Linked DNA regions of Homo sapiens. The protein of the gene in region 1 purifies or fractionates together with the protein of each later gene. This does not show direct contact. Each region holds a gene or a part of one and is shown on either strand. Other genes may lie near its edges.

Region 1 (3,829 bases):
AAGTGTTAGAGCTAAGGCCTGATGATATTTTTGCTTGCTGGAGCAAATCAGAAAAGAAACCTCTGTAAATGAAAAACTTTTCTAAGTCCCTTCCTTTATAAATTGAACAGTAACTAATTCAAATTTCCAGAATAATATAATTTTGATATTGTCTTGAAGTTTGCTGTATTTTGGTTTGGCTTGTATGCCATAAATATACCCAGTCGAATTTAGATGATTAGGAGGTATGATTTTAAACATATGAAACTGTCCCCTCTTTATCTTCTCTACACTATTATATTCTCTTCATGACACATATCACCACCAACCATATGTTTGTGTGTTTATTTTCTGCAACCCCTTCAGTAGTACATGTGCTACAGTAGAGAAGGGACTTAATCTGTTTTATTCCCTGCTGTATCTCCAGTACCTAAAATAATATGGAGTAGGTACTCAAAAAAATTTGTTTTATGGATAAAAATGTTTGTGTAAATTATGGGAAACTGACATTTAAATATTATTTTTCTTTCTAGCTTGGATTAGAAGAACAAGAAAGACTCCACCTACTATGGAGGTAAGACTACACAAGGAGGATATCATTTAGGAGTATATATTCCCAAGGATATACGAAGCTTCAGAAAAACTATGATGTATTTTCTCAAAGTGTTGATTTTATTCCATCACAGAAAATAACTTAAAACATTTTATAATAAATTAATATATAAACCTATATTATTAATAAAATAATATATGATAAAATAAATGCTCATATTATGGAATATAACAAAATTTGTATAAATTTTAAAGTGAAATAATAAAAATTTAAAACAAAATTAAAACACTCTGTAGAAAGTCTGAACTTGGAGCAGTTTGCACCAGGTTATTTCCCCTGGGCCCTGGGGGTTCTCTGTGCCAATACTCAAGCTTTTGTGGAAAAGTTTGAGAAACACTGAATCTCTTTGTCTTGTCCAAATCATGCTCTTATGTTTCCCTTAATATTATGTATTTAAATCCATCAAGTATCCAAAGAAACTTTAAAATACAGAATTAGCAATTATTTTATAACAGTAATTATTAGTTGACTTTTTATTTAAAACTAAAAAATTTGTAGTCAGTGATAAACAATAAAAAAACATAGAAATGCTATGGTATATATGTTTTACAATATAATTTTTATATAGATTATTTTATAAAAATTATAATTTTAATTTTAAAAATATGTAAAGACCTCTAAAGTTATTTTATAAGAAGTAATTTCATAAAAGGAGAGTCTCTAAATGCATTAGTGTACTGCCTTGTTTACTTTTTGTCTAGAGGCATTCCCTTTCTTCTACTATTTAGGACTTCCCTCCTCTCTTCTGTTGCCTATTCTGTCACTACTACAAGCCCTGATGACAACATAAATGGGCTCCGGTACTCAATCCCCATTTGTTGGGAAGTGGAGTGCTCTAGAGCAGGATAATGATGATACCTCAACTGGCATGCTTATGTTTATTTGCTCCATACATTTGTCATATACTGAACCCATTAATGTTCATTCGGCCAGGGTCTGACTGAGTACATCTCTTGACCCATTTCTAGCTTTGTATGTTGCTTCTGCCTTGGCCTACTTTTCGCAGACCCTTCTTTCCAACATTGATAAAATTTGGAATAAAAGCTGTTTTGGGGGGAAAAAATAAAAGGCAATATGATCCAGGATTCAGAAGTATGCCCAGTAGTTTACAGTGAAGGATGGATTGAAGAGCCTTCTGATTCTCCTTCTCTTGGTCATAATAAGAGCTACTGTTATCATTTGCTTCATCCATCCTCAGAACTTTGAAAGCCTTATTCATAGAAACATTAATATGCAAAGTGATTAATGGAGGCAATTGCAATAGTTGGGCCTCAGGCACAACTTCTGTAAATTTTAGGTAATTTCAGCACCTCAAACAATCTCTAGCCAGAACACACCAAGTCCTTCCATCCCTGAGCTCACTCTTGTTAATTTTGATTATCCAAAATGAGCCCTCTTTTGTTGCCTCCCTTTAAGTGTACTATCAATCACATTGTTCTTTATGCTGCTTCGTACCCTCCCTAATACACACACACACACACACACACACTCTTTTCCTTCCTCTTGGCCCTTTCCATTGTGTTTCAGGAATTTCTGTTTCTTTGTTAGCAAATTACCATTCACCATTAATATTTTCCTGGAAACTTTCTCTACCACAGAACCTCAACTGAAATCCGTCTGTGCCTGCAAGATAGTGAGTTCCTTTTTTTCCTTGAAGTAAGTTGTGCTCGCTTTCCCACGCCCCACATAAAGAAAGTGAGTTCAACTGCTTCTTGCTTCCCCAAATAGTCTTTGTTTGTGGACCCAAGAGAGTGGAGGACCTTTGTAATCCATGTGTATTTCTCTGTACCTGACCATCATTTTTATGTTTGCCAACATCCAAGCCAGTCTACCTTACTGATGGTCGAGATTAGAACCTGGAATATGGTCTTCTCCTTTCAATGCTTTCCCAAATTTTAGCTTTCCAGTTCTTTGACTTCATCCATACTAGTATCCCTGCCTCAAGTGAACAACCACTTCATTAGGCACACTTTAGTTTTTATCAAACACAGTTCTTACCACTGTAACTTTTACACTCTTCAAATCCAAATTCTAGATACATCATATTAAGAGGAAAAAATTTTTCTTAATGTAAAGTAAAACATATATTTATAAACCGTAACAAAAAAATAGCTTATTTAGTTATTAAGCTGTGAAATTATAAGGCAAATTCCACCCAGGTCAAGAAACACAACTTTGCCATCTACTTCAGCCCCATATATCCCATCCTAATCACAACCTTCTCTCTCTTGACAAAAGAAAACCTTAAGCCAACTTTTATAGTAATCATTTCCTCTCATTTTAAATAGTTTTTTCACCTAAATGTACATTATAGTTTAGACTTGTCCATTTCGTAAAAACTTCGTATTTGTTTTAAATCTTTCAGTCTATCCTCTTCCATTTCTTTTACTTCCTTAGAAATTTATGTGTTAAAATACCCAGCCCAGTTGGCCTACAGAATTTGCCACAGTCTAGATTTTGCTGATCTTATGTTCCTGGTGCACTTCATCATGTTCCTCTGTCCACTGTTTTCCTTCCAAGTTGACAACTGGATCCAGAAACTAGATTTTTTTTCCAGATCTTTTAGTGAATACCCAACTCCAAATAAACTTTCTTTCATATCTCCTATATATTATTGCTAAAGGTTAGCCAGCAGCCATTAGAATGTCATTTACAACAGTATTAGAAAACATAGAATACTGTGGAATTTAGTGAGCAAAACATGTGCAAGATCTGTGTACTCAAAACTACAAAATGTTGGTAAGATACATTAAATAAGACCTAAATAAATGGGGAGAAGTATCTGTTCATGGATTGGAATGTACAATATTGCTAATGTATTCATTCTTCCCAAACTGATCCACAGTAGTTCTTATGCTTTTATTTTGCATCTGCATCACCTGAAAGACTTGTTAAAACACAGATTGCTGGACCCCAAGCTTAGAGTTTTTGATCCATTAGTTTTGAGGTAGGGCCTGAATATTTGCATTTATAACATGTTGCTGGATGATGCTGATGCTGATGGTTCATAGCCCATATTTTGTGAACCACTGATTTATAGATTTAATAAAATGAATATCCAGTTAAAACCATGTCAGACTTTTTTGATAGAAATCAACATGCTGATTTGAAAATATATTTGGAAATGTAAAAGACCTAGAATAGCTGAAAGCAGCCATGAAAAAGGAGATGAAAATTAAAGGGCTAATACTGTCTGACTTTAAGAATTACTTTAAAACTATAGTTATCTAGACAGTA
Region 2 (3,829 bases), on another chromosome or scaffold:
ACAGTATGTAATTCCTCAAGTGATTGCAAGTGGTGGAGGAGACATGGGTAAAATGCATATATGTCTCTCTTATAGTAACACTGTCTAAAAAGGACAGAATGTGATTACTATAATACTGATAGAGGTGAGGTACTTTAGGAACACAATGGGAAAAGGGGAAAAGGAATGTTAATTCTGACTTAATGACAGCTTGTTAGAAGAGGTGGCACTTCGGCTGGGCATGGTGGCTCATACCTGTAATCCCAGCACTTTGGGAGGCCGAGGCAGGTGGATCACCTGAGGTCAGGAGTTCGAGACCAGCCTGGCCAATGTGGAGAAACCCCATCTCTACTAAAAATACAAAAAATTAGATGGGTGTGGTGGCACGCGCCTGTAGTCCCAGCTACTCGGGAGGCTGAGACAGGAGAATCACTTGAACCTGGGAGGTGGAAGTTGCAGTGAGCCAAGATGGCGCCACTGCACTGCAGCCTGGGCGACAGAGTGAGACTGTCTCAAAAAAAAAAAAAAAAAGAGGTGGCACTTGAACTGGGGCTCAAAGAGTGATTTAAGGTGTCAGAAGGAGAGTAAGGTCATGATAATTTTGTGAAATGAAATAGGCTTTGGCAGGTTTATATCTTAGAGTGTGTGTAGTAGGGTGATCATTATAGTTGTGTAGTAACCTATTGTAATATTCTAATGGGAAGCTCAATATGTGGACTTAATTCCCTGAATGAGGCCACTGCTGAAAAACTTTGAGCCAGTGGTTTGATCATAGCTGTAACTTAGAGCAGAATATTGATGCCTATAGTTTTTTCCTTTTTTTTTTTCTTTTTTGTTAGATACCCAAGTTCTTCGATGGATCTAGGATGCCTTTAGTTTTGTTAGTATGTTAGACTTTTGGTAATACAAAATGTACAGTCTTTTAGGAAAACTGCAGCTTGTATTTTTCTTCTTACAGATAAGGCTCAATTACTTGAAATAGCCAAAGCTAATGCAGCTGCCATGTGTGCTAAGGCTGGTGTCCCTTTACCACCAAACCTAAAGCCTGCACCTCCACCTACTATAGAAGAGAAAGTTGCTAAAAAGTCAGGAGGAGCTACTATAGAAGAACTAACTGAGGTAAGCTAGACAGAATTTGTTTTCATTCTTAAATGGATTATTCCAGTGATGTTGACTCTGGAGCGTGCCAAAACCCGAATTGTGGGCAGAACTGATAATGGCTGGCACCGAGTGGCCAAAACCCGAAATACAGATGTGGCAGCGGCAGAAGCTCTGTTTAGCAGGCCATTATCCGGGATGGCTAAGCTCCGCTAGCTAAAAGTTACTTCCCATTACTTTTGCTTTCCAGTTTTAGAAGCCAAACTGACTGAGGAGTGGGACGGTTCGTTTGAATGGAGGAGGTGTTGAGTGAGCAACACGCAGAAGCTCGCCTACAGTTTCGTTTCCATTCACGACGCGTTCACTGATCGCCACGAGTATACTGCATATACGCAAAGACACAGACAATCTTCAGAAATGATCTTTTGCCACCGGAGCTTGGAAATTAATAAGAATAGCTGGCCATTGCCTGAAAGGAACTTCTTTCGCATCAACATTTCGGGTTTTGGCTGTTTGGTACCAGCCATTGGCGATAATGGCCGGCCATTATCAGTTCTTCCTGCGGTTCGGGTTTTGGCAGTAACATATATATTTTAAACACACTTATTTTTGTTTTTAAAAGTTTGATCTTTTCAATTGAGGCTTTTTTGGGGCTTTGTTTTATTACTATTTTTTTGGTGTGGGTGGATGGGGGGAGATGCTAAAATATTGCTGCTAGGATCCAGAAATACCACACTGTTTCATATATTGGAACTTGTTATTGGCTAGCCTTATGCCAGCCTGCCACTGTCAATATATTCTGTTCCCCTTGGTTACAAGCTTAATATACTCTTGTGTTTTTGGCGAAATGAGCTTTTTATCCTATTGTAATATTTTCAATTGATAATAGATGTCATTAAATCTACTGCTTGTATAGAGACAGGTGTACCCAAATTTACTCTTGACCTTTTTATAAAGCCAGGTAATGGAGTCTGTTCCTTTGCATCTCAGGAAGGAATTGACTTTGCTTTATGTATCAGACCTCATCAATTGCACCCTCTCCATCATGCCTTATTTTCCTAAGTTCTCCTTAAAGAAACTCAACCCACAAAACATTTATGGAGAGACATGTTGCTATCTAATCCTGTTGCAAATATTTCAGATCTTTTGTTTTGCCATACATCTGGGAAAATGTAAAGCTTCTGAATCTGTTTCCTCACTTAGATTTATTACAATATGAATTACAACTTTTTTTAAAAAATTAAGGACCTTGTAAACGCTTCTATTGCTTATTTACCTAATCCAAGCTCCTTATCCAAAATGCTAAGGACAGTTAGTATTTTGCTGTTTTCGGCCCCATCTTCAGCCTTCTTGTCCCAAGTTTCTTCTCACCTTTTTACCACCACCTGACTAGGATGACTTCTCCTTTCCCTACCAGTCTTTGTTCTTTACTATGAAAATCTGGCTTAGAACTCTTCAAGGAATATTCCTTGATTCTCTAACTCTGCCTGACTATTCTCTCTTAAGCCTTTGTTCTTTTAGCACTTATGTACTCAGTTTGTATTATATCAGTTTGCACTTGTTATTGTGTTGCTCTGTAAAAGTGTTCAATTATTTCATGTATATGTATTCCTTCTCTTGTACTAGATTGTAAGCTCCTTGAGAGCAGGGACCATGTCTTCTACTTTTTTTTTTTTTTTTTTTTTTTGTATTCCCCAGACAGTGCCCAGTACAGTGCTCTCTCTGCACATAGTAGGTGCTCAATAAATGTTGTTGACTGACTGACCAGCCAGAGTGTGTTTAAATAGTAGTTAATATGCCAAGTTACGTATCTATAACCTATCATGAATCTTGTTTAACTTTGGAAAGTTGCTATTATGTGGTTTTGATTCTAAGAAATTACATGTTCTACATAAAGCGTAAGATTTATCTTTTGTTTGTTTTTACTTTTAAAGAAATGTAAACAGATCGCACAGAGTAAAGAAGATGATGATGTAATAGTGAATAAACCTCATGTTTCGGATGAAGAGGAAGAAGAACCTCCTTTTTATCATCATCCCTTTAAACTCAGTGAACCCAAACCTATTTTTTTCAATCTGAATGTGAGTATTAGTGCTTATGGATTGGTAAAACAGTGTAACTTGTGGAACTATTTAAATAAAACCCAAATCGAATTTAGTTTATTAATTTTTGTTTTAAATACTGTGAGAAATAATGGATAATATCATTTCCTTCAGATTATGTAGAAAATCTCAAACCATTTAATGTAGATATCATATTGAGCTTTAATTAAGAAACACTTTATTTTTTAGATTGCTGCAGCAAAACCAACTCCACCAAAAAGCCAGGTAACATTAACAAAAGAATTCCCTGTATCATCTGGATCTCAACATCGGAAAAAAGAAGCGGATAGTGTTTATGGAGAATGGGTTCCTGTGGAGAAAAATGGTGAAGAAAACAAAGATGATGATAATGTTTTCAGCAGCAATTTGCCCTCAGAGGTAAGTAGGAGGAATATTATGTATTTTTCCTTTTTTATACCTGAATCTGCCATTTCATTGTTATGTTATGTCTGATTTGGATTCTGTTTCACTCTTCTTAGGGCCGGGTTAAACGGCAGGGCCGGGTTAGACGACAGATGAAACAACCCGCAGCTTCTCATTTGACAGTAACTCGATGCAATTCACTTTGTGGAACCAAGCCACAAAGTGAAAAGCATCGAATTGCAGAGAACAGTGTTATCACATCCCTACCCAACATTGGGCCCTCCCTG

The links.
Region 2: the proteins of NDUFAF2 (region 1) and SON fractionate together in Homo sapiens (co-fractionation; one large-scale study listed by BioGRID). This does not show direct contact.

The regions. Positions count from the first base shown.
Region 1 is NC_000005.10:61,098,480-61,102,308, forward strand, and holds part of NDUFAF2 (NADH dehydrogenase [ubiquinone] 1 alpha subcomplex assembly factor 2), read left to right. Parts: intron 1-512; coding exon 513-553; intron 554-3,829. UniProt on the Homo sapiens protein: Acts as a molecular chaperone for mitochondrial complex I assembly. Complex I functions in the transfer of electrons from NADH to the respiratory chain. The immediate electron acceptor for the enzyme is believed to be ubiquinone.
Region 2 is NC_000021.9:33,556,219-33,560,047, forward strand, and holds part of SON (protein SON), read left to right. Parts: intron 1-937; coding exon 938-1,098; intron 1,099-1,327; coding exon of another isoform or gene 1,328-1,333; exon of another isoform or gene 1,334-2,848; intron 2,849-3,011; coding exon 3,012-3,158; intron 3,159-3,368; coding exon 3,369-3,557; intron 3,558-3,658; coding exon of another isoform or gene 3,659-3,829. UniProt on the Homo sapiens protein: RNA-binding protein that acts as a mRNA splicing cofactor by promoting efficient splicing of transcripts that possess weak splice sites.